4 linked regions of the Homo sapiens genome follow. The protein of the gene in region 1 interacts with the protein of each later gene in a pairwise test. Each region holds a gene or a part of one and is shown in the gene's direction. Other genes may lie near its edges. The genes, in order: ASB13, MSRB3, ZNF581 and POGZ.

Evidence for each region.
Region 2: the proteins of ASB13 (region 1) and MSRB3 interact in binary tests that used the Homo sapiens proteins (3 or more experiments, as listed by UniProt).
Region 3: the proteins of ASB13 (region 1) and ZNF581 interact in binary tests that used the Homo sapiens proteins (3 or more experiments, as listed by UniProt).
Region 4: the proteins of ASB13 (region 1) and POGZ interact in binary tests that used the Homo sapiens proteins (3 or more experiments, as listed by UniProt).

What each region holds. Positions count from the first base shown.
Region 1 is NC_000010.11:5,656,577-5,663,601, reverse strand, and holds part of ASB13 (ankyrin repeat and SOCS box protein 13), read left to right. Parts: intron 1-7,025. UniProt on the Homo sapiens protein: May be a substrate-recognition component of a SCF-like ECS (Elongin-Cullin-SOCS-box protein) E3 ubiquitin-protein ligase complex which mediates the ubiquitination and subsequent proteasomal degradation of target proteins.
Region 2 is NC_000012.12:65,274,774-65,281,701, forward strand, and holds the start of MSRB3 (methionine-R-sulfoxide reductase B3 isoform 2 precursor), read left to right. Parts: upstream 1-3,909; 5' UTR 3,910-3,995; coding exon of another isoform or gene 3,996-4,092; intron 4,093-4,183; exon of another isoform or gene 4,184-4,744; intron 4,745-6,928. UniProt on the Homo sapiens protein: Catalyzes the reduction of free and protein-bound methionine sulfoxide to methionine. Isoform 2 is essential for hearing.
Region 3 is NC_000019.10:55,639,201-55,646,143, forward strand, and holds ZNF581 (zinc finger protein 581), read left to right. Parts: upstream 1-4,448; 5' UTR 4,449-4,574; intron 4,575-5,352; 5' UTR 5,353-5,371; coding exon 5,372-5,965; 3' UTR 5,966-6,423; downstream 6,424-6,943. Other genes in the region: ZNF580 (zinc finger protein 580), read left to right, coding at 3,309-3,827. UniProt on the Homo sapiens protein: May be involved in transcriptional regulation.
Region 4 is NC_000001.11:151,407,491-151,414,515, reverse strand, and holds part of POGZ (pogo transposable element with ZNF domain), read left to right. Parts: intron 1-2,119; coding exon 2,120-2,220; intron 2,221-2,744; coding exon 2,745-2,891; intron 2,892-5,687; coding exon 5,688-5,822; intron 5,823-5,934; coding exon 5,935-6,107; intron 6,108-6,275; coding exon 6,276-6,416; intron 6,417-7,025. UniProt on the Homo sapiens protein: Plays a role in mitotic cell cycle progression and is involved in kinetochore assembly and mitotic sister chromatid cohesion.

The sequences.
Region 1 (7,025 bases):
TTAGGGTGAAAAGCGTCCCTCAGGTCCCTTAACTGAGACAGGGAGGATGCAGGATCAGAGCTCAGGGGTCCTGAGTCAGGGCCTGAGCTCCCACAGTGCCTTGAGGGTGGGACTGGGGGACCCTCCCCATGCTCCCTGGGCCATAGCCTTTGGGGTGGACCAGGGGCAAGGGAGGAGTCGGGGTAGCAGATAATTGGGTGAGTGATGAGGGAGTCAGGGGAGGAGACATTGAAGGATAATGCAGCGAATCCAGTGTGGTTTTAGCGTCCTGCAGGTGGAAGGAAATGCCTGTTATTCACCAAGCTCTCCTGACACCTTCGGTCCTTTCTCCCAGTTCCTTTACTCCTTAGCCCACCTATTTTCACCTCTTTTCTCCTTGTCTTCTGCTTTCATTTATTCTTTCCCTTTCTTTTCTCCACTCTTACTGAGTTTTGACCATTTTGTCCCTCTAAGAAGGCAAATACTGGCATTTTTGCTTCATTGAACACATCTTAAAATCAGTCTGCTGTTTGACCTCAAGTTTACCGACAAACTATATTTTGGGGATTCATAATGAAAACATTTAAAAAGACATGGTTGAAAAATATCACTGTAGCAACAAAACACTGAGCCCAGACTTGTAAGTGGGAGTTTCTACATAGAAAAATAAAGATCCATATTTTTTTTCCTTGGGTTTCAAGGACACTAAAACTGAAATTTGAGCTGCGCTATTAAAATTTGGTGATAGTGGTTAAGTGCCATGCGTTAGGCACCCTCTTTGTGCTGGGGTTGTCACGTACACTGTCTTTAGTTGTCACCATGAGATCCTTCATTTATCTTTTCCTCTGTGGTCTCTTTGTCTTTGTGGATTTAGCCCCCATTTTATTCCCTTACCGTCACTTGTGTGTGGTTTGGACAGCAGGCAGAGATGAATGGATGCTACATTTGGCTTTTTCTGGGAGTGTTAATCATCCAGGATCTCATCTCTTCTCTTCTCTTCTCTTCTCTTCTCTTCTCTTCTCTTCTCTTCTCTTCTCTTCTCTTCTCTTCTCTTCTCCCCTCCCCTCCCCTCCCCTCCCCTCCCCCCCCCTTCTCGACAGAGTCTCAGTCTGTCGCCCAGGCTGGAGTGCAGTGGCACGATCTCAGCTCACTGCAGTCTCCACTGCTTGGTTCAAGCGATTCTCCTGTCTCAGCCTCCTGAGTAGCTGGGATTATTACTGGGATTACAGGTGCATGCCACCACACCCAGCTAATTTTTGTATTTTTAGTAGAGATGGGGTTTTGCCATGTTGGCCAGGCTGATCTCGAACTCTTGACCTCAGGTGATCCGCCTGCCTCAGCCTCCCGAAGTGCTGGGATTACAGGCGTGAGCCACTGCGCCCAGCCCATCGTCCAGCATTTCTAAGGCCTTTTCAGTTCTGACAGTCAGCGCGTGTTCATGAATCCTTAGCTTTCTGGGACCCTGGGGGGCTATGTCACTCAGGACTCTTGACTTTTCCCTGAGAGCTGAGGATGAGCCCATTGAGAGCAGCATCAGAAAACCCTCCCTGGGGGCTTCCGGTGCCTGCCTTGGTTCTTCCAGGGTGGGTTCCCCAAGTGTGTGCTCGCCCGCCCCAGCCCGGCTTTATGGGTGGGTCAGGGTGGAGGGCCCACCCTCACCATTTCAAGAATGCTTACTGGGGTTTTGCAGGGAGGGCTTCTTACAGAGGCTGCTGGTTGTTTTTGACGCAGAAATGACATTTCTGCAGCCAGGACCCCAGACTCCCCTTGGTGATTTACTCGGAACAAAATTTCTGACTCCAGCAACATTTAAGAGTGCATTCTGGGCTGGGCCTGGGGCTCATGCCTGTAATCCCAGCACTTAGGGAGGCCAAGGCGGGAGGATCACTTGAACCCAGGAGTTTGAGACCAGCCTGGGCAACATGGTGAAACCCTGTCTCTACAGAAAATACAAAAATTATCCAGTGTGGTGGTGGTGCATGGGCCTGTAGTCCCAGCTACTTGGGAGGCTGAGGTGGGAGGATCACTTGAACCTAGGAGGTTGAGGCTGCAGTGAGCCCTGATCACACCACTGCACTTCAGCTTGGGTGACAGCGAGACCCTGTTTCAAAAATAAATAAATAAACAATAAGAAAACAAAATAGGAAAAAAGGTGCATCTTGGGTATTTGACCTGGATTCAAAGCCAGCATGCTACTGGATCAGCTTTGTCTGGAAGGTGTCCCTGGTGGCATTTGAGAATGCTCTTTGTTGGAGTGGGCCCTGACCCTGGAGAGGCCCCAGGCTCGGCGGGGCGGGGTTGGGGGCAAGTGGCTCTGCTGCTTTTATGGTTGCAGTCCCTGTGTGGGTCAAGTGAGGCCCGCCAGTGTGGGTGCAGGCAGGGCAGTGTGGAGGATGGGCTCTGGAGGTGCCCAGCTCTGCAGTGTGCAGGGGCCAGCAGGCCAGCTGCCTCCTAGACACAGGCTCTCTAGGGGGTGGCCGGGCCTGGGCACAGAGCTGCCACTTGGGCCCAACGAGTGGGGCTCTGGCTCTGGGATGACTGAGGAGATACTGGCAAACCAGCTGCCTAGGGGGAAAATAAAGAAAAAGAAACAAAAATAAAAGTCTGCTTTGCTGCTTTCCCTGGTCTAAATACTCACATCCTGGCTGCTTTCAAGCTGCTGGTGGTCTCCGGCCAGCAGAACCTGGCTGTGCAGCAGCCAGCTGGCGAGATGGCCCGGCACACTGCTGGGTGGCTTGCAAGGCAGGGAGCGATGGAGGGGCTCTGGTCTCAGAGGGCCCGGGAACTGAGCAGAAAAATTGGGCAGAGACTCAATCAGTCACCCGACTTAGGTAAGGATTGAGTTACTGGAGCTGGAATGCAAGATTGGGGGGCTTGCTATGGAACAAAGATGAGATGGTAGAACCCGCACCTGCCCTCCCCACAGGACTGGTAGGGTAATAATGACAGCAATGATCCTGGAGCCATGGCAGTGCCTGTTACTCACAGCATTTACAGGTGGCCAGGCACGATTTTCTTCAGTCTTCACAGCACCCATTTGAGGAGAGAGGAGGCCGAGGTTTGGAGAGGGTAAGCTGTGAGACGAGCTTTGAACTCACGAGCAGGGTGGTTCCTGCAGCTTGCCCCTGTAGAGTCTGCTCCCTGAGGGTAGGCTGACCCTGAGCCACTTGACCTGTTCAGCCAGGGCTTCCTAATCTCAAAGGACAGGTCAGTCCTGGGGCAGGGCACAGCCTTAGATGGGAGGGTGTCGGGGCCCCAGCAAAGGGGCAAGAGAGGGGAAGAGGAGCTGGGGTCCAGAAAGGTCCACACCTGGCACACGGTCCTAGCCAGTAAGGTCGTATCGTGGGTGGAAGAGTGGAGAGAACGTTCTGAAGCACGTGTCATTCCTTCTCAAGGTGACGTCTGCCGTAGTCTGCAGTAGATACATAGGTGACATCTGTGAAACTCTAGTTTTCAGGGCAAAGGCTTTTGCTTGGCTATTCATGAGCTCAGGCCTGCAGGCGGCAGGTAAACAGGAGGAGCCATAGTGTGTAACACCGTGACCCTGACCTGAAGCAGAGGAGGAAGTGGGTAGAATCCAGCCATCAGGACTGGGTCATGAGTCACCAGGGCTGCAGCCTTGGCTCTTGTTGCAACACAAGTTCTTCATTTAATGGATGCACGAGCCCCCGCTTGGCCAGAGTGTGCAAGCATCATGTTAGGTCTCAGGCCACTGTCCTGGGCTGGAAAGTGGAGCAGGGGACAGAACCTAGCGGCAGGGGTCCAAGTTCAGTCTGGCAGGGGAAGATGCGTCTGGGGAGTGCTTATTCATTCAGATACCTGCACGAGCAGCCTGTGTGGGGAGGCTGGCTAGCTGTGGTACTATTCCCAAGGTGACAGGGGATGGCCTTAGGGAAGGCCCAGGGAAGGGAGAATGCTGATCAGCTGGTGGTGGGGCAATAGTGTGGAGATGGCGTGGGGGGGTGGGCTGCATGCTCGGGAGGCTTCCTGAAGGAGCAGGGGTCCCCTCAGTCGAGGAATTTCAGCCGGAAGCAAGGTGGGGAATGGGGCTGAGAAGAGCTTTCCAGGCAGGGGAAGGAACAGCATACGCAAAGCATGGGACTTGCAGCCACTGGACTCTGTGTGAGTCGGTAGAGTTTGGTGTCACTGGACACGGCTGTGTGCATGACGGGGAGCCTGGGGACAGGGCCTGTGACTGCATGGTCGTGGACCTTGTTCCTTGCCTGGGTTCCACCCTGGAGGAGGGAGCCCTTGTGAGCAGGCCCTGTCAGACTGGCTTGTCAATCATCTGCATTAGGGAGGGGGCAACCTATTATGTGGCAGCAGTGGGTGGGATTTAGGGGCAGAACGTGAGTCCCGGAGGGAACTCGCCAGCACGGCATGGAGTCTCGGGTTTCCAAGGCGGTGCTCCGCCAAGGGAGAGGGTGCAGGGATTGGGGAGGGGGGGCGTCTTGCCACCACAGGGAGCCTGGCACAGGGGCTGGAAGCAGCCTGCAATCCATCCTGGCCAGTCCATTCACTAACAGACAGCATTTCCTGTGCTCACTCCTCATCCATTTAAGGTCCGTGACCATAAGCTGTCCTTCCCGATTCTTTTCACCTGGGACACTGACCCTGCCATTGCAGGGCTGAGTCACATTGCTCTGTGGTGGTGGGTGCTGGGGGCTGATGTTTATGAAGAGAGTGGGTCTCTTCGCCCCCTGGAAGGGCCATCGGTGGTTTGGGGGTGTCAGGAAAGGTGACGAGGTGCACCCCAGGCACCTGCTGTCCTCTAGCCTTCTATCCCTCCCTTCCCCACTGTAAATCTCCTATGAGGACAGCCTGCGGGTGACAGTCCCCCCATGCTCTAGGTCCTCCAGCTTCTGGTTACTTAAAAATTTTTTTTTTCTATTTTTAATTGTAGTAGAGAGCACAGAACACAAAAGTTACCACCTTAGCCATTTCAAGTGTCCACTTCAGTAGGGTTGAGTACATTTACATTTTTGTGTAACAGATCTCTAGAACTTTTTCATCCTGTAAAACTGAAATTCTGTCCCCATGAAACACTAACTCCCCATTTCTCCTCCCCCAAGCCCCTGGCAACTACCTTTCTACTTTCCATCTCCATGAATTTGACTACTCGAGGGACCTCACATAAGTGGAATCATACAGTATTTGGCTTTTCAGAAATGGCTTATTTGGTTTTGTTTTTTTTTTTTTTTTCAGACAAAGTCACCCAGGCCGTAGTGCAATGGCACGATTTTGGCTCACTGCAACCTCCACCTCCTGGGTTCAAGTGATTCTCCTGCCTTAGCCTCCATAGTAGCTGGGATTATAGGCATGGGCCACCATGCCCAGCTAATTTTTGTAATTTTAGTAGAGATGGGGTTTCACCATATTGCCTGCCTCGGCCTCCCAAAGTGCTGGGATTAGAGTTTTGAGCCACTGCACCTGGCCAGAAATAGCGTATTTATTTATTTATTTTTGAGACAGAGTCTCTCTCTGTCACCCAGGCTGGAGTGCAGTGGTGTGATCTCAGTTCACTGCAACCTCTGTCTCCTGGGTTCATGCGATTCTCGTGCCTCAGCCTCTGAGTAGCTGGCACTACTGAAGCACCATGGATTACAGCCACCATGCCTGGCTAATTTTTGTATTCTTAGTAGAGACAGGGTTTCCCCATGTTGGCCATGCTGGTCTCGAACTCCTAACCTCAAGTGATCTGCCCGCCTCGGCCTCCCAAAGTGCTGGGATTACAGGTGTGAGCCAGCGTGCCTGGCCTAGAAATGGCTTGTTTGACTCAGCATAATGTCCTCAAGGTTCATCCATGTTGTAGCATGGGACAGGATTTCCTTCATTCCCAACGCTGAATAATATTCCACTGGACACTTGGATTGTTGAGAATAATGCTGCTATGAATGTGGGTGTACAAATGAATCTCTCCTCAAGACCCTGCTTTCAATTCTTCTGGAGATATGCCCAGCAGTGGAGTTGCTGGATCATATGATATCCTATGTTTCATTTTTTAGGAACTGCCATACAGTCTTCCACAGTGGCTAGACCATTTTATATTCCCATCATCAGTGCACAAGAGTACCACTTTCTCCACATTCTCGCCAACACGTATTTGGTTTTTTTTGATAATCCTAACAGGTGTGAGGTAGTATCTTATTGTGGTTTTGATTTGCATTTCTTTAATGATTAGTGACCTTGAATACCTTTTTTTTTTATGTTTGTGGCTGTGTGCATCCTGTTTAGAGAAATGTCTGTTCAACTCGTTTGCCCATTTTTAAACCTGGTTATTTGTTTTTTTTGTTTTTGAGTTGCAGGAGTTCTTTATATATTCTGGACTAACCCCTTTTCAGATATATGACTTGCAAATATTTTCTCCCATTCTGTGGGTTGCCATTTCACTCTGATTGTGCCCTTTGATGCACGGAAGTTTCTTTTTTCTTTTTTTCTTATCATGTCTGCTGCTAATTTTTGCCCTGAATTGCTGCAGTAAGACTACAGCAGCTGATGTGATTCACTAGAAATAAGTTGCATTTCCTTTGTAGACTGGTGATACAGAGAAATAAAATTAGATTTTCTTTTAAAAATTTTATGTCTAGTTGTAACTGAACCCAGATTTGGCTGCTTACTGCTCAAAAGCCAAATACGAGAGACAAGAGTTGGTGGCAGGTTTATCTGGAGAGCCAGCAAACCAGGAAGATGGTAGATAAGTGTCTAAAGTGCCGTCTAAGTCAGTACAGGTTTCGGGTTCTTAATTATGTTAAGGGCAGTGGGAAAAAGAGGCTGTTGGGATCAAGAGGTAACCAAGGACCAGTGACATCTGGGCACCAGTGAAGGTCCTAGGAGGTTGGGAACATCTTTGTCCTTGATCAGGTCGCAGTGCTCCTATAAATCTTTAACAAAACATAGCTAGTTGTTTACATGCTTTCCTTTTAATCCCAGAGTTAATTTCAAAGCTACACGTTTGCTCTTTTTGCATATTATCTTAATGCTCTAAAATTATCCTAGCCTCTGTGTAAGAATGGATAAAGGCCCCTCAAACAAAAATGTTAGTTCTT
Region 2 (6,928 bases), on another chromosome or scaffold:
TATTACTTACTGCAGCATATCCAAAGCAAAATCTGGCAGAGTCAGGCAGCATGTCAATCACGGGAGTATAGGCTTCAACTTCCTCCAGAATTAATCAACAAAAGGGATAGCTTCGACTGTGTCAAACAGAAAATACCATCATCGGAGATGCAGGCAAATAACTTTACTGTGAAAAGAAGGACAATGGTTACTTTAATTTGGTCTTCTCTCTCTGCTTAGGAATCCCACCTGATTTCCTGGTAGTGAGTGCTTATTATTTTAACACACTTGGTGACTGGGGGCTGGATGATGTCATGGCAATGGAGATCATTTTTCAGAATCTGAGAGAAAAATTCAGATGTCTCCCTTAGCCAGTCAGTATTCACGGTGTGCCCCCGACATTGTTGAGGACAGTTCTCAACCCTATTCCCACTGTAGCACATTGAGGCAAGAGGTATGCTTCTATCAGTGTAAGGCAGTGTTCTCAGAGGTGAGAGTATTGACCGCCCACTTCCCACTATAGGAAAGCAGAATTTGGGGAGTTTGTATTGAGTGTAGTTTGAAGAATTACATCCCCCTAAGAGGTATTACTCTCACTCTCCAATTGAGTATTAATTGGTTTAGAACAGTGGCACTTGTTTTGCAGTTGTTGGCATCCACCTAAGATGTTTCTTGGTATATGTGAAGTGGGGGCTGTCCCAAGGCTTTGTGCAGTGTCTGAGGAGATTTTATTAAAGAGCTGAGAATAGCACCTTGGGCAGGTTACAGCTTAGATGCCTTTCATGTTTACCTATTCTTTTTGAAAGAGGCTGCCCCAAGCACAGCCCTATAAAAAGACAGCAACACAGTCTGTTTATTTAGGATGGGTGGCCATGTTCTGTTGGCATGTGACCTTCCCATCTTAGCCACAACTGAAGAACTAGCACCTGGATCGGGGGCGGCCAGTGGCTTGTGAGACAGACTCAATATAAGAATGGTGATAGAATCAGATTCTCCCCCCTGGGGCATTTGGTTATGAGATATATGGAGAGAGTTGGCACCTGGTTGTGGGAACAGAAGTGGAAATACAGGCAGAGAGACAAAGAGCTGTGGTTACACAACTTGAATTATTGTGTGTTCTGAAGACATTTCATGAGTTGCAGCTGTGGTATGCCAGAGCTGGCTCTACGGCCCCAAAAACTGGTTGTGTGGATCCCTTCCCAACCCTGCCTTCAGAGACATCTGGTTGGTGGGAGTATTTGTACCATGTGAATTGGTTAATACTGTAGATCAGGGCCCCTAGCCCTTTCATCCAGATCTGGTTGTTAAATGTTTACCAGCACACCACTGGGTTGGGGGAGGGATGGTGTAGGAAGCAGGCAGAAGCAGCTACCTCCTCTGGGTCTTTACCCTTAAAATCAATGTTGAATGGAATATGGTAACATGATTGTTATTAAGGCTATAATAAAGAAGACATTTAAAAAGCATTGTAAAATACATGATTAAAATATCAATGGTTAAACTACAAAACTTATAGGAATGTGGTCAAGGGGGTAGTACCTTTCCCATTCCCCTAGCTTTCAAAGGCACAGGCCCCGCCCACCATGCCTACAAAGGATGATCTGACAAGCCAGGTAAGCCTCTGGTCTTATTTCCACATGTATTCTTTACCTTGGTTACTTGAGGTAACCTGAGTGCATACCAGTTACTTAAAACCAAAAGCGCCCAATGAATACAGTTTTTGAATGCCACTTTTTTTTAATGTAGAGAAAATAAGACAGATTAGTATGGTAAAAGTATATATGCACTTTAGAATGAGGATTTAATTCTAATACTACTTCACTTCTTCCTGGTAGCATATTACTTACCTATGCCTCAGTCTCCTTAGCTGTAAAATAGGGATAAAAATAATCTCAGAGATATTTGTAAGAATTAAATGAGATATCAGTTATAAAAAACATCTAGCACAGTGTCTGGCACTTATCATGCACTTAGTAACTTTAGTTCTTTTCTGCCACTCTTAGCATATTTATTCAAGCCTTTAGAATAGTGGTTGGCATTGCTGACAGTGATGTCAGCTATGTTGATACAATGAACTCTCTATTTTTACTAACATGAATTGGGTTGTAATGATATTGCATTTTTTATAATTCTATATTTTTGTATGTAAGGTTCTTCACTAAAATATTTTAAATATAGGCATAATTATTGCAATCCTTTGAAACATGCTTTACACTTAGGGAGCTTCTAAATTCCTTTCTACAAATGGCTGTGCCCATTTTATTTTTGTTTTTAAACAAACATTTGGACTATGGGCAAAGAACTTTGCAAAGTGTTGTGGGGGAAGTAGAAAAACAGACACTTATGTAACACAAGGCTATAAAAAAAGAGGAAACGGAGGGAATACTGAAGAGCTTCTTCAGTATTTCCAACTACCTAGGTTCTAGGTACCTAATTAAATAGTCATGTTATGTGTCATTTAAATCCTTTATTCATTGCATTACAATTTATTCACCATTACTTTATCTGGGTCATCTACCCTTAGTCCCATTATAATTGCCAATGCATTAAGGGTGACATTTGCCCATTTGCTATATGTAATTCACAGGATGTGGTGTTTTTCAGTACCAGATGTTTTGAGGGGAGCCACTTGCAATGGACTGTTTTTTGGTGTATGTGTTTTAATAGTTTGCCAGAACTGAGTTTGATTTGAAACAACGTTCTTGATTTTCAAATACAGCATTTTCAAACAAATAGTGTGATGTACAAATTACCATCACTTTAGTTCACGTTGAAATAATCCACACTCTAAATCTGTTTGACATTTACCCCTTAAGTATTTTGGATCAATAAATCATTTCTGTATCATCTAGCATCTTAAAATGTTCGTAAGTAACTACTTAATACCCTACATATCCAGGTCCTGTCCCATTAGTTTGAGGGAAAAAATATATTATAGTAATTAAGACATAATTATGTTGTCTTGAAAAGCTAAGGGTCATTTGGACTTGATTACCCAAGGAGTTATCAGTGCCAAGGAAAATTAGGCAACTACAGGCTTGGGCCTGTAATTAAACATCTAGGACTGACATTTTGTTCATCAGAGGTGGCACCTTCTGAATGAATTACACCATTTCATTTTAGACAAGCTACGGTACATACAAAACAAGTGTGTGGAGGGGGTTGGGGGGTGGACATGAATAGAGATTGGAGGTGGAGAGAAAGACCGGTGTAAACTTAAGCATTTTGTTGTGAAAAACTACTGTTCAGCCAGCCTGCCTGGGCTCCATATATGGTGTTCAAATATAAGTTTGGGACGAGCACCTTTGCAATTTTGGCCAAGAACACACACACACTCACCCTCCTCTGCTAGAGAGGGCCCGCTCACCTGGAACGCAGGCGGCTGGTTCTCCGTATTACAGTGAGTGCTCGTTCTGTATGTATAGGATGGCCAAGTAACTAACTGGCAGCCCTGCTCCTGCCTCACTCTCCCACAACTTTTTATCCCCTCACCACCAACGCTCTCAACAACCCCTGACACGTCTTCCCACAGGTCCCTGGCTCGCTGTCCGGTCTCTTCGTGTTGGTTTGTCCGTTTCCCACTCCTTCAGCGGTCTCAGGTGGAACACGCCAGGTGGGCGCTTGGCTGTGTTCTGGGGTCCCGAGTTGGAAAGGGATGCCCCCAGGCAGAAGGCGGCCGGCAGCCCTGGGGCAGAGGAGGACGAGGGGGAGGAGAGGAGCAGGAGGGCAGGGCAGAGAAGGAGGAGGAGGAGGACGGTGCAGAGGAGGAGGAGGAGGAGGAAGAGGACAGGGCAGAGGAGGAGGGAGTTGGCGGCCGCCGAGCCCCGGGCAGCGGGCCCCGTCCGCGGCCGGCGCGCTCCGTGGTCCTCCCTCGCTCGTCTCCTATGCTCATATTTGGACTCGGCTGCCCGTGCCCAGGAATTTCCCGTCATGCCTCCCGCCGCCCCGTCCGTCGCCCGGAGCCGGGGAGGGAGGGAGCGAGGTTCGGACACCGGCGGCGGCTGCCTGGCCTTTCCATGAGCCCGCGGCGGACCCTCCCGCGCCCCCTCTCGCTCTGCCTCTCCCTCTGCCTCTGCCTCTGCCTGGCCGCGGCTCTGGGAAGTGCGCAGTCCGGTAAGTTCGGGCTCCCCTCCCCTCTCCTCCTCGCCTCACCCCTCCCACCCCGACCCTGCCACGTTAGGGTGTGACCCCGAGCCGGGATTCCATTCTGCGCCTGCTGCGCCCCCTCGGCCACCTGCGGGGACAGCCCCTGCCTCAGCCGAGAAGGGGAGCAGAAGGGTTGCGCCCCGCGCCAGCGGTGAGGGGCCGAACGGAAGGAGGTCAGGGCTGGTTTCCCCCCACCCGCCGAAGGGAGGCGTCTGGCAGCCTCACTGACACCTTATCCTGTCCCGGGAGCGAACCTGAACCCGCGGGAGCCTCTCGCCCCGCGCGGGCCCAGGAGAGAGGGATCTGGCGGGGCAGCCCGCGGGAGGCAGGGGAGGGGTCCATCCCGGAGCCCTCTGCTCTGTGCGTCGACCCTGCCGGGGTTGCCGCTCAGATAACGGGCCCGAGGCGTGGGAACCGGCCCGCCAGGCCTGCGCTTTTCGCCGCGCGCCTCGGAGAGGACGGGGGTGCGGGGCGGCGGGCAGGCGGCAGGGAGGGGCGCACCCGGGAGCGCACCCGCCGCCCGCCCTCCCTGCGCTGCTGCCCCGCTGCTGGGCCAGACTCCAGCGGGCCCGCCTGGCATTTCACAGGCCAAAATCGAACAGAACCCCGAGTTTGCCAGGTATCAGTTTTGCTTTGTTTTTAAGCAGAAAAAGGCATCCAAGTCTATTTTTGAAGTTTTACACTGGGCTATTTCGAGTCAAACTATATGAATGAAAAGTGCTGTTCCTGCCTTATTTGGTTTAGGGCTAATAGCTATCGGAAGTGGCAGTTATGAAGTCGTTACAGTAAGACTTTATAAGATAATCTTCTTGAATCATGTGGGAACTGTTGGGGGGAATTTAATATCAGATTATTATTTTAAAAAGCAGTTATTTTAAAGTACAAAGGTAGGGATAAAGGTAAATGTGAAATTGCATGGACTTTTACGTTTGTGATGAGTAGTCGTCAAAGCTTCTTGCTTCTTAATTTTATCGGGAATGGAAGAATATAAATTATAATTCCTTAGAGCTGAGATTTCTTAGGAGATTTTAGTTTGCTTTTGTTTTTTCTACCAATAGACTAAATTGTCAAATAAGATATGGCAAACTAGGACTCATAAATTAGTTGAAACATGACTCTATGAAGCATAGATTATATTCAGTACTCTCTGGTTTATCTCTTCATATTTTCATTTGCAGCGCTGGTGGCAAGATCGATTTTCAAAAACAATTTTGTCTATAAAAAAACTTCAGGGTTCATATAACTTATAAAATTGTCAGTTCAGATTAATGGCAGATATTTACAATATTTAACTTTATTCAATTTGCAATTTGTAAATAGTAACTTGAGCAGTGATATCAGTTTCATGTTTCTTTCTGCATAGTATTGTTTTTCAAAAAAACCCTGTTTTTTATAGATTCATATTTTGGAAGTAACTTTAATAGCACTTCTTGGGAAATACAACAGGTTCTAATTTCACATTTTTCAATGGATTTCTAAAAAATACTGTGCTGGATAGTGAAGAGTGGATTTTATTGCCAGGAAACATATGTATGCTTTCTTTTTCCTCAGTGATGTGTTGACTTACCTAATACTTGTGGTGAAACGGCCTTCGAAGACCAGAATCCACTGTACTGGCCCCTTGCCAGTAATTTTGAACATCAAGTTTATATTTGGACCATTTAAACATATATTCTTTTAATTCCGGTCCCAGCTGATATATCAGTCTAATTTCTGATGACTTTTATTAGGGCCCTATATGAATATCTGGAAATTTTTATATTAAGATAAGTAGCTCTTTGCTACTTATCTAGAATTTTGTCACAGTGCTTAAACTGCTTGTATGGCAAGGTTGCAGCATACAATGTAATTTAGATTTTGAATCAACACACTGCTTTTTGTTTTTAAAAGTGCTTGTTCTAATATTTTAACTAAGATGTTAATCCATTAAGTCAGAAATCCTTGCTATTTTGCTCAACTCAAAAGAATATCCAAAGACTATCCCAACAGTAAGGTTCATCAGTTTTTCTAATACATATGCCATTTAATAATTAAAAATAGATTTTAAGGCCACGTGTGGTGGCTCATGCCTGTAATGCAACACTTTGGGAGGCCAGTGTGGGAGGATTGCTTGAACCCAGGAGTTCGAGACCGGCCTGGTCAACATAGGGATACCCTGTCTCTACAAAAATTAAAAAAAAATTAGCTGGGCATAGTGGCTCACTCCTGTGGTCTCAGCTACTTGGGAAGCCAAAGTGGGAGGATTGCTTGGGCCAGGGAGATCGAGGCTGTGGTAAGCCGTGATCACACCACTGCATTTTTGGTTCTGTCATAATCTGGTCACAATCCCTCTAATTTATCTGCACCTGTATAATTAATTTATCATAGTTATGGATTTGGTTGATGAATTTGATTCCCATGTTTAGCTTCTCGGTAAAATTATTAAGTTGGACAGTTTCCATGTCTCTTCTAACTCCAAGATCCTATAATGTTGTTTTTGTTTATGTAACTCTTCAGAGCCACCTACTACATGTGGTTCAAACTTCTGATTGTCAGCCTGTGACTTGCTATACATGTCAAACTGGCCTACCTTAGCCAGATGTGATGGGTGTGGTCCAGTGTTGGAGAGTCCGGATCTGTCTCAGGATTGTGTTAATACCTGGAACATGCACAAAGATACATACATACCTGGACAGATTCCGTGTTAAGCTTCTATCACTTTTTCTTCCTCATCTAATAGCAGAAAGTGCTGATTATGTCATAGGGTAAATGCCTAACTGGTTTTTGGGGATAGTTAAGCCCAGGCCTTAAGACAGTTTGATAT
Region 3 (6,943 bases), on another chromosome or scaffold:
GGGGAGGGTGCTACTGCCATCTGGTGGGTGGAGGCCAAGGATGCTGCTCAACACTCTACAGTGCACAGGATGGGCCCCCACAACAAAGAGTGGTCCGGCTCAAAATGTGTGGTGGCCCACGCCTGTAGTCCCAGCTGTTTGGGAGACTGAAGTGGAAGGATCACTTGTGCCTGGGAGGGTGAGGCTGCAGTGAGCCAGAAGCATGCCACTGCACTCCAGCGTGGGCGACAGAGTGAGACTCTGTCTCAAAAAATATACATACTGCCCAGTAAAATGTTTAAAAAGTACCTTGTGTCCCAAACCAAATATAACTGTGAGGCCTTTTGGGCCCTTGGGCCTCCAGTTTACAACTGGTTGACAGTGGTCTCTGGAATTGTTCCATAAGGTAGGAGCCATATGTGGCTTAAATTTTGATTATGGGAAATTAGTATTTTTTGAGACAGTCTCCCTCTGTTGCCCAGGCTGCAGTATAGTGGCACGATCTTGGCACACTGCAACCTCCACCTCCTGGGTTCAAGCGATTCTCCTGCCTCAGCCTCCCAAGTAGCTGGGACTGTAGGGGAGCACCACTACGGCCGGCTAATTTTTGTACTTTTAGTAGAGAAGGAGTTTCACCATGTTGGCCAGGCTGGTCTCGAACTCCTGACCTCAGGTGATCCGCCCGCCTTGGCCTCCGAAAGTGCTGGGGTTACAGGTGTGAGCCACCGTGCTGATTATGGGAAATGTAATACAATTTAAAATTCAGGTCCTCTGATACACCAGCCACATTTCAAGAGTGTAAGAGTCCCACGTGGCTAGTGACTGTCATAGAACTTTCCACCATTGCAGAAAGTTCTGATGGACAGTGCTCTAGGATGTAGCTGTGGCACCCCAGGGTCTTGGGGCTCGCTGTGACAGTTACTCCTCTTCTGTCCCCCACTCTCAGCTGCACCTGCAGATGCTGCTGCTGCCGCCCTCCTGCGAGGCCGTGGCGCCACGTGGCTGGAGGAGGAGCTGCAGCTGCCCCGAGTGCTGCCGCGTGTGCAGCTCTCCAGTGCGGCTGCAGCGCCACCGCGCGTTGCTTTCGACGCCGGAGTCCTTCGCATGCGCAGCCAGCGCCCGGGCCTCAAGTGCCCCAGGACCTGGCGCAGCCCGCGAGCCCGCATCAGGCTTCCAGTGGGCCCCGTGGGCAGTGCCAGCCTTTCCCACCTCCGCATCTGGCAAAGCCTGGCCTTCGCTGCGCTTCGGTGTCGCCACATGCCTTCTGGAAATATCACACCTCCCCACCTGCGCATGCAGCCGTCTGGCCCTCTGTGGGCCTCGGTTCCCGCATGTGCCCCGTGGAAAGAACATACCTTCCCCAACTATCTGGCAGCGTCTGGCCTTCTCCGGGCCTCGGCCTCCCCATTTGCTGGGTGGAGAATCACGGCCCGGCCACATCGGAGCCAATGGCTGGTCTCTGGACCTCGGTCTCCACATTTGCTCAGCCGGCAGGAACATCCCTTCTCCCGCCCTCTACCTCGGTGGGTGGCCACGGCCGAGCAGGCAGCGACGGCCCAGTGGAAAGAGGACAAACCCTTGTGGGCCTTAGGGCGAAGACGTAACTTTGCTTAGTCTCGGTTTATTGGCCGATCTCTTGTCAAGCGGCGGAATCGTTCCGTTCGGGAGGTGGGAGGGGAGCGGGGCCGCCGGGGGCGGGCGTCTTCAGTGGACCCCACGCCTCCGGTCCCCTCCCCGCAGGGCGCTCCGCAGAGGCGAGGGGTGGGAGCGCCGGCTCCAGGCGGCGGAACCTCCGCACTGGGCTCGCGCGCTTCCGGCCGGCGCCTTTTCCCAGGGACTCCGCCAACCCCTCGCACCCCCGCGCCCCCAGTCCCCGCGTCCCCGGCGCCGCCGGCCCGGAGCTGCCCGGAAGTCTCGGTTCCGCCGCCGGCGCTCGCCAGGGGAAGCCCGGGGCCGCCCGGGACCTCGGCCCGTTCCTCCGGACCCGAGAGGCCGCCGCACGGGGTACGGGGGCCGGGATGGAGGGAGGAGCCTGGCCCTGGGACGACGCCGGGGCCAGGCAGGCTGGGGGAGTGCGCTGGAGCCACCCGGGATGGGGGTGGGGGTCGGGAGCGGCAGGATCGGGCGGAGGGACGGGAGGGGAAGTCGAGGCGCCAGGGCTCCTTGGGGAAGTGAAGGCAATAGGAGGGGCCCCAGGGCCAGGGGACAGGCGGTGTGTAGCGGGATGGGGGCGAAAACGCCCGGGCGCTGGGGTTCCCATAAACAAGGGGAGCAGAGCAAAAGAACGGGCGGGGGACCACGCTGTGTGTAACAGGGAGAGGGATGGGGCTCCTGGAAGAGGTGAACACGAGGAGAAAGAGAGATGCCAGACGTACACAGAAAGGAGGGGAAAGTGGGCTTGGGAGAGGTGCTGTGGGAAGCGGAGTCCCGGAGCCTGGTGTGCATAACGGGGTTTGGGAGAAGGCCCCTGATGGGTACAGAAAGAAGTAACGATGTCACCGCCATATATGGGGGGCGAGAGAAAAGGGGGCCTTTGGGGAGAATGTAGCAGGTAGCCAGGTTGGGGGGGCGGGGTATACAGAAGGAAGGCATTTGAGCCATTTTGGGGTGTATAGATGTAGTAAGACGATGGGTTCCGTAGTGGGGAGAGGTGACTAGACTTCGAGGTGCTAAGTGTAGGAACAGGATGGAAAAGCCCTAGTGAAATGTGGGGAATTGGGTTAGTGGGGCTCTGGGGAGGTACCTAGAGAGGAAGTGAGGGAGGCCACGGAATATGAAGATGGGGAGGCCCTGCGGCATGTAGTGGGGACGGAGGGCCAGGAGGCCGATACGGGGGCCGGTGGGGGGGTAGGGGGCGGCAAAGGGAGGGGAAGTAAACTGAACTGGGGCTGGGCAACAGGAAAAAAGAAGAAACCACAGATTAGAGAAATCTCGGCGGTCAGGAGGCCCGGGGTCTAAGATGTAAAGAGGTAAACAGATTTAGGGATTGATTGTCTGCTGGGGTGGGTTGAGAGGAGAAAAGGGAAGAAAAGTCGGGGGACTACGTCCTCAGACCTGACCTGAGTGGTGAGAGGTGGACCCAGGAGGAGTGGCAGGTGGTGGCGGGGTTTTGCAGAGCTCAGTTGGAGGCCCTCTCCGAGGCAGCTTGATGGAACGTGGGAGAGCCGGGCTGGAGTCACAGTTTTTATTTTGCTAGGGAGGTAGTCAGTGGCGCACAAAGGGTAACAAGCAGTGATAGTGGGGATGCTTTCCATTTTAGGAAACTTTTCCTAAAAGGAAGTGGCAATTTTAACTAATCTCCCCTCCGCCGCTCCCAGCTGCCGCTCCAGATGCTGCTGCTGCCGCCGCGGCCACCCCACCCTCGGTCCTCCTCTCCGGAGGCCATGGACCCACCGCCCCCCAAGGCTCCCCCTTTCCCCAAGGCGGAAGGCCCCTCCTCCACTCCTTCCTCGGCGGCGGGGCCCCGACCCCCGCGGCTGGGCCGCCACCTCCTCATCGACGCCAATGGGGTCCCCTACACATACACGGTGCAGCTGGAGGAGGAGCCCCGGGGCCCGCCCCAGCGCGAGGCGCCCCCAGGAGAGCCCGGCCCTCGCAAGGGCTACAGCTGCCCGGAGTGCGCCCGTGTCTTTGCCAGCCCTCTGCGGCTGCAGAGCCACCGCGTGTCGCACTCGGACCTCAAGCCCTTCACGTGCGGCGCCTGCGGCAAGGCCTTCAAGCGCTCCAGCCACCTGTCGCGGCATCGCGCCACGCACCGCGCCCGCGCCGGGCCGCCGCACACCTGCCCGCTCTGCCCACGCCGCTTCCAGGACGCCGCGGAGCTGGCGCAGCACGTGCGCCTCCACTAAGCTCGAGACCCGGCCTGTGCTGCCCTGCCCGTCTCAGGGCCACCAAGTCTGACCCACACAGCGTCACTCACTCCCACACACACCCCCTGGCTCTGCTGAGGTTACTGCCTTACCCTGGGCCTCAGTTTCCCCACCTTCCAAAGGGAGGAGCATCATTCCTTCCTTACCCCCTTTCTAGCTGTGTGATGTAGACCAAAGTCGTTGCCCCTCCCTGGGCCTGGGAACCAGTCGGAACTGGGTTCCAGTCCAGCTGTGCTGTGTGAGCCTGTGCAAGTGACATGACCTCTCTAAACCTTGGTTTTCTGCTCTCTGGAGCGGTGAACCGGTGGTTGTCTGCGGGGAAGAGATGATAAAGAGCACGGGCACGGTCTGGTTCATTTCTGTATCTACCCCCCTTCCGCCCACGCCCCCGACCCTTTGCTCAATAAACATTCCGCACTCCATTTTCAGGCTCTTCCTTGCGTGTGCGTGCACGTTGGGTGCTGGGGGGTGGAGACCGGATCTTCCTCGCTTGGGTACTTTCCTCTCGGTGTGTGTTTCTGGCCGGAGCCGTTTCGCGACGGCCCGGGCGCCCCGCCCCAACCTTCCTTCCCTAGACCCTCTTCTCTCCCTTCGGCTTCTCTCTTTCGGCCGGCGCCGCCAGTTCCTGGGGCACACCCAGAGGTCCCCTTCTCGCCGCCGCCTGCAACTGCGAGGGTAGCCCGGGGCCGCTTGGAGTCGCCCGGACCTGAGAGGCTGCTGCACTGGGTACGGGGGCCGGGAGGAGGAAGGGGGCTGGGGGCGGGCGGCGGGAGGGGCTGGACCGCGTGGAGGGTACCTGGGCCGGGGCGGGAGTGGGGCAGACGCCGGAGGGGGCTGTTCTGGAGCTTGGAGGGGGCGAGAACTTACACAGAAAGGCCCAGAAAGCGAGGGCTGCGGCCCCGGGGGTGGAACCCCGGAGAGCGCTGGGACCTAGAACGAGCCTGGTGGAGGCCGGGCGAGGACTAGAGAGAACCTGAGGTGGGTGGACGGGTGGGAGCACGGAGTTGTTCAGACACGTGGCTGGAGAGAGGGCCGGAACCTGGGGGTCCTAACGTCGGAGCCCCTGTGAATAGGCTTGGCTTGTATGGAGGGGGTCAGGAAAGGCTTGAGTATGTAGCATAGGCCAACACGCAGACCCTGGAAAGGGCTAGAAGGAGGGGAGGGAGAGGCCTGGAGGCCTGCGGGGTGGGGCACCCAGTGACCTGGGAGGGCACAAAGAGGAAGGTTAGAGCGAGGTCCAGGTTGTGCAGAGGAGGTCAAGAGATCCTGTGAGTACAGTGTATGGTGGAGCACCGAGGCTAGGAGAGGTTTTCCAAGGAGGAAGACCCTGGGGACCTTTTAGGGGGCCACAGACTCCAGCTGTGAGCGGGACTGGAAAAGAGGGACTGAGGGGCAGCAGGATGCAGAGGTCCTGGGCCGGGTATAGGGAGGGAAAAGGATGGAGCCTGTGGTGCTGAGCTGCCCTCTTCTATATAACCTTCTTATCCCATCTCCCATCCACCAGGCCTCAGCCAGCCCTCCGGATGCTGGTGCTGCCATCCCCCTGCCCTCAGCCTCTGGCATTTTCCTCCGTTGAGACCATGGAGGGCCCTCCCCGTCGGACTTGCCGCTCCCCAGAACCTGGACCTTCCTCCTCCATCGGATCTCCCCAGGCTTCATCTCCTCCAAGGCCCAACCACTACCTGCTTATTGACACTCAGGGTGTCCCCTACACAGTGCTGGTGGACGAGGAGTCACAGAGGGAGCCAGGGGCCAGTGGGGCTCCAGGCCAGAAAAAGTGCTACAGCTGCCCCGTGTGCTCAAGGGTCTTCGAGTACATGTCCTACCTTCAGCGACACAGCATCACCCACTCGGAGGTAAAGCCCTTCGAGTGTGACATCTGTGGGAAGGCATTCAAGCGCGCCAGCCACTTGGCACGGCACCATTCCATTCACCTGGCGGGTGGTGGGCGGCCCCACGGCTGCCCGCTCTGCCCTCGCCGCTTCCGGGATGCGGGTGAGCTGGCCCAGCACAGCCGGGTGCACTCTGGGGAACGCCCGTTTCAGTGTCCACACTGCCCTCGCCGCTTTATGGAGCAGAACACACTGCAGAAACACACGCGGTGGAAGCATCCATGAGCCGGGCTGCCGGGTGCCCCAGGTACCACAGGACTTTGCAGGGAGCCTGGACTCCTGTCCAGACACCTGGTGAGAGCCTGAGGCTGGTGTTCAGGGCCCTGGACACAGACACAGAGCAGCCGCATCTCAAAGGCAGAGCCCTGCCTGAAGGAGGAATCCGTGAGTAATCTTCAGGTCCTCCGTGTTCTGGAGCTGAGATGGGAATGAGCCCCTACACAGAATGGAGTCCTCTAGCCTAAAGATATCAGCTGTTCCATGGCAGAGCCTTGACTGGATGGAGGTGGGGAGTGTGGTGTGTAAAGTCTCTGGCCTCATAAAAGGTGGCTGTGGGTCGTCAGGAATCTGCGCCATCTTCCTGGGGCTTCTGCGCTGTTGTTGGGGAAGGGACCCCAGTCCTGCCTTCCACCCCCCAACCAGGCCTGAGACTGATCAAACAATAAACACGTTTCCCACTCTGAGCACTCGAGGTTTGTTTTTAGAGACAGCATCTCAGACCCTCTTTGGTGGCCGTCTAGCAGGGAGACCTCAGCTTGCCTGGCTGGGGAATGGGAAGGTTGGCCTGCCTTGGGGTTATCCCCTCCTCAGCTCCTGAAGACCTGGGTCATCTGGGAAGAATGTTTTTAACTGAAACAATTTTAAAACCACAATCTCCTGTTACAAACACATTTTATATGGCAATAGAGTATACAGATAAGCAAAATACACGTGAACCAAGTTTCCTTTTTTTTTTTTTGAGACGGAGTTTCACTCTTTTTGCCCAGGCTGGAGTCCAATGGCACAATCTCGGATCACCGCAATGCCTCCTGGGTTCAAGCGATTCTCCTGCCTCAGCCTCCCTAGTAGCTGGGATTACAAGCGTGTGCCACCATGCCCAGCTAATTTTGTATTTTTAGTAGAGACGGGGTTTCTCCATGTTGGTCAGGCTGTTCTTGAACTCCCAACCTCAGGTGATTCACCTGCCTCGGCCTCCCAAAGTGC
Region 4 (7,025 bases), on another chromosome or scaffold:
CCACCGTGCCCAGCCAACACATGTAAATCTTAACCTGATGCTTGTACATTAGAAATTGCTTAATAAGTGTTTTTATTATTGATGTTGCATGACAGCTGTGAAAATAGAGCTGATAAATAGGTTATAGGAGAAAGAGTGAATGAGATTGCCCAGGGAAAACATAGACTAAGAAAGGCCTGGACAAAATATTGCTTAAAGGTGTTCTAGAAGAGAAAAATGAGAGAGGTAAACAAATCGGGGGGTGAGTGGAAAAGAGATAATATCGTTATGTTGCTAGTTAACTGTTTCCCAAACATGTGGTTAACTTTCATACCTACTTGCCTTTCCTCCTGCTTTTCTCTTGGTCCTCTCTCTGGCTGGCTGAGCCCCATTCTTTGACAATTCAGCTTTTATATGTTGTTATAGCTTTTCCTCATTCCTTTATGCAGAATTTCTTATTTATCCATGTCCTCATAGCACCTAATGTACCTGTAGACAGTGTTTCTAAATGGAGTTGCAGACCTCTTTGAGAATAAATATGAAATGTTTGAATCCTCTTCCTAGAAAAATCTACATTTTACTCTTTTGCAAATAATTTCAGAGAAAGCCTGGATTCCTAGAGGCCTGTTCCATAGACCCCAGATTAAGAACCCCTGGCTTTTGTTTGTTTGTTTTACTTTAAAAAATTACTTGGCTAGGCACAGTGGCTCATACCTGTAATTCTGGTACTTTGGGAGGCTGAGATGGGAGGATTGCTTGAGCTTGGGAGGTCAGGGTTGCAGTGAGCCATGATTGAGCCACTGCGCTCTAGCGTGCGAGACAGAACGAGACTCTGTCTCAAAACAAAAATCCAGGGTTCTCGGTAGTTAAAAAAAGAAAAAAGAATTATTTCAACTTTATTCATATTTCTTTGGCTGGGGTGTAGGGGGCTGGGGGCGGGGGGAGGTTAGACATTGTCCAGTAAATGCCCAAGGCTTTAAGCTTCCAGTTTTCATATTTGCAAAAACTTGAAACTAATTCCATTAAAGTGACAAAAATGTAAATAATCTCTCTCTTTTTGCCATACTGTATAATTAAAAATATGTAGCAGTTAAAAGTCTTACCAAAATTGGCCGGTGCACTGGCTCACACCTGTAATTCTAGCACTTTGGGAGACTGAAGTGGATTGACAAAAGGATTGCTTGAGGCCAGGAGTTTCCGACCAGCCTGGGCAACATGGCGAGACCCTGTCCCTACAAAAAAAAATTTTTTTTAATTACTTGGGCATGGTGGTGCACCACTGTAGTCCTAGCTACTTGGGAGGCTGAAACAGGAGGCTCGCTTGAGCTCAAAGGATAGTCCTAGCTACTCAGGAGGCTGCGGTGAGCTATGATCATGCTCCAGCCTGAGCAACAGTGAGATTCTGTCTCTTAAAAAAAAAAAAAAAAAAAAAAGCCCAGGCACGGTGGCTCACACCTATAATCCCAGCACTTTGGGAGGCTGGGACAGGTAGATCACCTGAGGTCAGGAGTTCGAGACCAACCTGGCCAACATGAAATTACCAAAAATTGTCTCAGAAGTTTGACAAAATTGTTCATTTGTGTCATAAAATTTTGTCAAAATTTTTTCTCATAAGCTTGACAAAATGGACAATTTCAAAGAGAGTAGGAGGTATTGGAGGCCAGCTGATTAGCAGTGGGAAATCATATGGGCTAGTACCAAGTTTTTGCCTTATTATAAGTATAGAGAAGTGACAGTTCCTACATGCAGTTTGAAATAATGGTGACAGAATGCAGGGTTTGGAATCCGAGATAGTGCCTAAATTTTGAGCTCAGGAAGAAATGGGGAAAGGAAAAAGGGAAACAGTGGTAAGACAGGAGGATGCTGAATTAGGTTAGAGTTGACGATAGAATAACCAATTTAAAATGTCTTATAGATAAAATCTAGAATGAAGCTTTGGTAAGAAGTCTGAGCTACGTACATAAGATTATCAGCAACATATATGTTAAGGTGGAGCCATTTAAAGAAAGAACAGAAGGGACCTATGATTTACTGATTGTTGAAAATCAAAATAAAGGAGGCAGAGAAAATAAAGATTGTGAGTCAGCAGGACTTTTGTCTTATTTTCAAGTGGATTTATTGATTACTTTTCTTCTTACAGCCAAGTGCAAGATCTGTGAATGGGCGTTTGAAAGTGAGCCACTATTTCTCCAGCATATGAAGGATACTCATAAGCCTGGAGAGATGCCTTATGTTTGCCAGGTATTGCCTTTTTCTCCAGGGAGTTTTAGCAGTTTTGCCCTCAGGAAGAATACAAAGAATTTACTAATGAATATTGTTGACCACCTACTGCATACACTCAGTTTAGGAACTCTGAGTAGGTACAGAAGAAATAGTAAACACAGTTTATCTTCAGGGTTTCCATGCAGGAGAAAAACATAAAAGAACATGTCCACAAGTAGACTAGCCGGGAACATGTGCATATTCTAAGGGAGTGTCTGTCTCCTGAACGTGCCCTTTGGAAATTGACAGAAAAGGCTTTATTTTTCTTAGTTAGAGAACATGGATTATTCTTAGACTTTCTGTCCCTTCCTATTTTTAAAGTAATAGCTAAACCTATCACAAACATAGCCCAGCATTACAAAGTCAGGAAAATAATTTGATTTCTATGCATTTGAGAAAACTTTTTTTTTTTAATTTAAAAATTTTTGTTGCTACCTTTTTTTTTAAGGCCTCTCAGTTGTTCACTTCATTCTTAGCCTTATTTTCCCTCCTATGTGACTCAGGTGTGTCAATATCGCTCCTCACTCTACTCTGAGGTAGATGTCCATTTTCGGATGATCCATGAGGATACCCGGCATCTGCTCTGCCCTTATTGCCTGAAGGTCTTCAAAAATGGCAATGCATTCCAACAGCATTACATGAGGCACCAGGTACTAGGCACCAAGCAATTCCCATATTCTCTTGTTTTTTTTTTTTTTAAACATGGATGCTGGGGCCAGGGCTGAGCTAGGCAAATAATTTGGGCAGAGATTATAATATGCATATGTTTGCAGAAATTTATTGAATTCACTTAATGTGCCATGTACTAGTCTAGATGCTAGAGATTTAGTAGTAAACAAGGCAAACAATACAATAAAACATGAAGAGTACTGTGTTGGGGAAATTATAGGATATAGAAAATCACATAGCTATTCTGGGTGCCTAGTAAGGCTTCCAGAAAGAAGTGTTGTTCAATACCTGAGGGATGAATAAGAATGAGCCAGATGAAATAAGACGAAGAACAGTGTGCCCAAGGCACAAAGCAAAATTGTGGAGGTTCAAGAAATTGAGAGAGATTCAGTGTAGGGTGTAAGAGACAGAGGGGTTGGAAGTTAGGCAGGGACAGATCATGGAGGATCTTTTAAGCCATGAAAAGAATTCACTGGGAAGCCACTAAAGGGGTTTTAAGCCCTGGAGTGATGTGTTCAGCTTTAGTTAAGGCTTTATACTGCCTGCACTGCAGAGAATGGATTAAAGGAGATTGAGACTACAGTTAGGGAAACTAGCTAGAAGGCCTTTTTCAGTAGTTTAGGTGAGAGATGATAGTGGCTATTGGCTTTTGAAATAAAAAGAGGGTAGAGTTGAGAGATATTCAGAAGATTTGTGATATTTATGATGTAGAGATGGATTAGGTGAAGGTAGCAATGCAGTAGTTAAGAATAGTGCCTAAGATTCTGTCTTGGGCAGTTGGGTGAATGAGGGAACTATTTGCTGAAATAGAAACAATAGAGAAAGTATATTTGTGAGGGGGGAGATCATGAGCTTGGATATTGTAAGTTAGCAGTATCTGTGGATGTCAAGTGTAGCTGTTGGATAATAGATCTCAAGCCTGTGAGAGAACTCTGGGTTGTAGAAAAGATTTAGGAATCAGCGTTATATAAATCCTATAGATTTTAAACTTAAATACCATGGGCCCCCCAACCCTGTTGAGAATAAGAGAAGGCTTAGGATATTTGAAGTCCCTTATCTATAAAGCAACCACCATAGTACTAGGAGGAAAACCAGAAGAGTCTTAACCTTAAGGAAACTGGGGAGAAGAAAGTGTTTTAAAGAAAAGGGTGTGATCAAAATGTCATATGTTACAGGAAGGTGTCAAGCAACATAGAGACTTAGAAACAGGCCTTTAATTTAGCAACATTGATGAGAGCCATTTTGTTGGTTGGTAGGGTGGAAGTCACATTTCAGCAGAACAAATGAATGAGAGGTAAGGAAATGAAGACGATGTATTTAAAGAAGTTTATTTATAAAAAGGGAGGACCCAGGGTAGGTAAATCCAGAGGAAGAAGTGGCAAAGAAGAGTTTTTTATTGCTTTTATTTTCCTTATAAGATGAAAAGCTATGACTTCGTTTTAAAATACTACAAGAAGAGAGCCACTAGAGGAGAGTGAAAGGTATATAGTATATAAGAGAGGATTCAAAATGGAGAATAAGATGAGTGCATGTGTGCTTAATAGTCACATACATATGCACACAAACATATGTACCCTATTACACTCATAGTCTCCTTTGCACAGTAGTGACTGCTGATTGTCTACCACAACTGTATTTCCAAATAGGGGCATGGAAATTGTCTCTTAGCCTAAGCTTACAGAGCTTTGTTATCCTACTAAAGAAAATCATAGACATGGGTTCTATTTTTGAAGGACTTCAATACTAGGCAGACTGAATCCTCAAAGTGGTCTCACCAGGAGACATATCTGTATATACTGATGTGTTAAGTGAGAAAACAGCAAGGTATAGACAAGTGCTATCATTTGTGTTAAAAGGAGAAAAAGAAGAGGGCTGAGGTGGGAGGATCACTTGAGCCCAGGAGGTGGAGTCCAGCCTGGGCAACATGGTGAGACAACATCTCTACAAAAAGGAAAGGGAAAAAAGTAAGGGCCAGGCACAGTGATGCACGCCTGTAATCCCAACACTTTGGGAGGCCAAGGCAGGTAGATCACTTGAACCCAGGAGTTGAAGACCAGCCTGGGCAACATGGTGACACCCCGTCTCTACAAAAAAATACAAAAAGTAGCCGGGCGTGGTGGCACGTGCCTGTAGTCCCAGCTACTTGGGACGTGCAGTGAGCTATGAACATGCCACTGCACTCCAGCCTGGGCTACAGAGAGAGACCCTGTCTCAAAAAAAGGGGGCGAGGCAGGTAATGATTGGATATGAATGTATTTGTGATACAGTTATATGTGTAGACTGCCCACGAAAGCATACTCAGGAAACTGGTAATAAGTTGTTTGTATGGAAGGGGACTGAGTGTTGGAGTTGAAAGCAAAGTTGGAAGAGTATAGAAAAAAAAGTATGACTTTAGTTTACTATGTACATTGTCCTTTTTTAAAAAAAGAAGAATGAAGAATGTCCAGAAGAATGTCCAGTTGTCAGCAGTGTAAAGATATAATACAAATAAAGGTTACATCACTCATTCAAATTGTTAAAACAAGTCAGGAAAGGATGATTTGAGAACTTAGTCATCCTGGACTAGAATCCATCTTTCTTTGATATCATGGGAGGTGATGATTCTCAATGGTAGGTTTTGTGGTCATGTTGCATATTTCTTTCTTACTCTCTTAAATTATCAACAGAAAGGTGGGAAGAATGATATGGTTGACATTGATCTGCTTTCTCCTCAAAAAAGAAAATTTATTAGGAACCTTTAAGGGATTTTGTCTCTTTTTTTCCCTCCCCCACTTCAGAAGAGAAATGTTTATCACTGCAACAAATGCCGGCTGCAGTTTCTCTTTGCCAAGGACAAAATTGAACACAAGCTTCAACACCATAAAACCTTCCGTAAACCCAAGCAGCTGGAGGGCTTGAAACCAGGCACCAAGGTAAAGAGTTTGCCAGTGTCTTTTATAGGCCCAGGGAGGGAGGAATAGAGATTTTCAGTATTCTGAAATTTAGTGTGGGTGATGTCTCATTGTTACTTCCCTTGGTTCTCAGGTGACAATCCGGGCTTCCCGAGGGCAGCCACGAACTGTTCCTGTATCCTCTAATGATACACCTCCCAGCGCCTTGCAGGAGGCAGCACCGCTGACCTCCTCAATGGACCCTCTGCCTGTCTTCCTTTATCCCCCTGTCCAGCGCAGCATCCAGAAGAGAGCTGTTAGGAAAATGTCAGCGCCTTCTTCTAAGTGCTGGGCGGGTGGGGACTGGGTGGCCAGGATTATTCCTGATACACAGTGCAATCTGGTAGCTTTTTAGCAGGGTTTGTTGTCTGAAAATCCTACATTTTGGGGACCCATGAGGCAGTAATGAGAATTCTTTTTTTTTTTCCCCCACAGGAGTGTCATGGGCCGGCAGACATGCCTGGAGTGCAGCTTCGAGATCCCAGACTTCCCTAATCATTTCCCTACTTACGTACACTGCTCTCTGTGTCGCTATAGCACCTGCTGTTCTCGAGCTTATGCCAACCACATGATCAAGTAAGTTGGTTTTTAACCAGTGTTTTAGCTTGAGAGTTCAGATTCTTTTTTTCTTCTTCTTCTTCTTCTTTTTTTTTTTTTTTTTTTGAAGACAGGGTCTCACTCTGTCCCCTAGGCTGGAGTGCAATAGCATGATCTTGGCTCACTGCAACCTCTGCCTCCTGGGTTCAAGTGATTCTCCTGTCTCAGCCTCCCAAGTAGCTGGGATTATAGGTGTGCACCACCATGCCTGGCTGATTTTTTTGTATTTTTAGTAGAGACGGGGTTTCACCTTGTTGGCCAGGCTGGTCTCAAACTCCTGAGCTCAGGTGATCCACCTGCCTCGGCCTCCCTAAAGTGCTGGGATTACAGACATGAGCCACTGCGCCCGGCCCCAGCCAGATTCTTGAGCACTCATTTCATTTTCTCCCCTGCTTCTAATATGTTTCCTCCTTCAACTCTTAGAGCTATTTGTTCTTCTCTCCTAGCAGAGTGAGAGGCTCTGTTTTTTCGGTTTTGATGGTCTGTGCTCTAATTTCATAGGGCCTTGCTATTCAAGTACCAGTAGTATTAGGTGGGAGCTTGTTAGAAATGCTGACTCTCAGCCCCGCCCTAGGCCTACTGAACCAG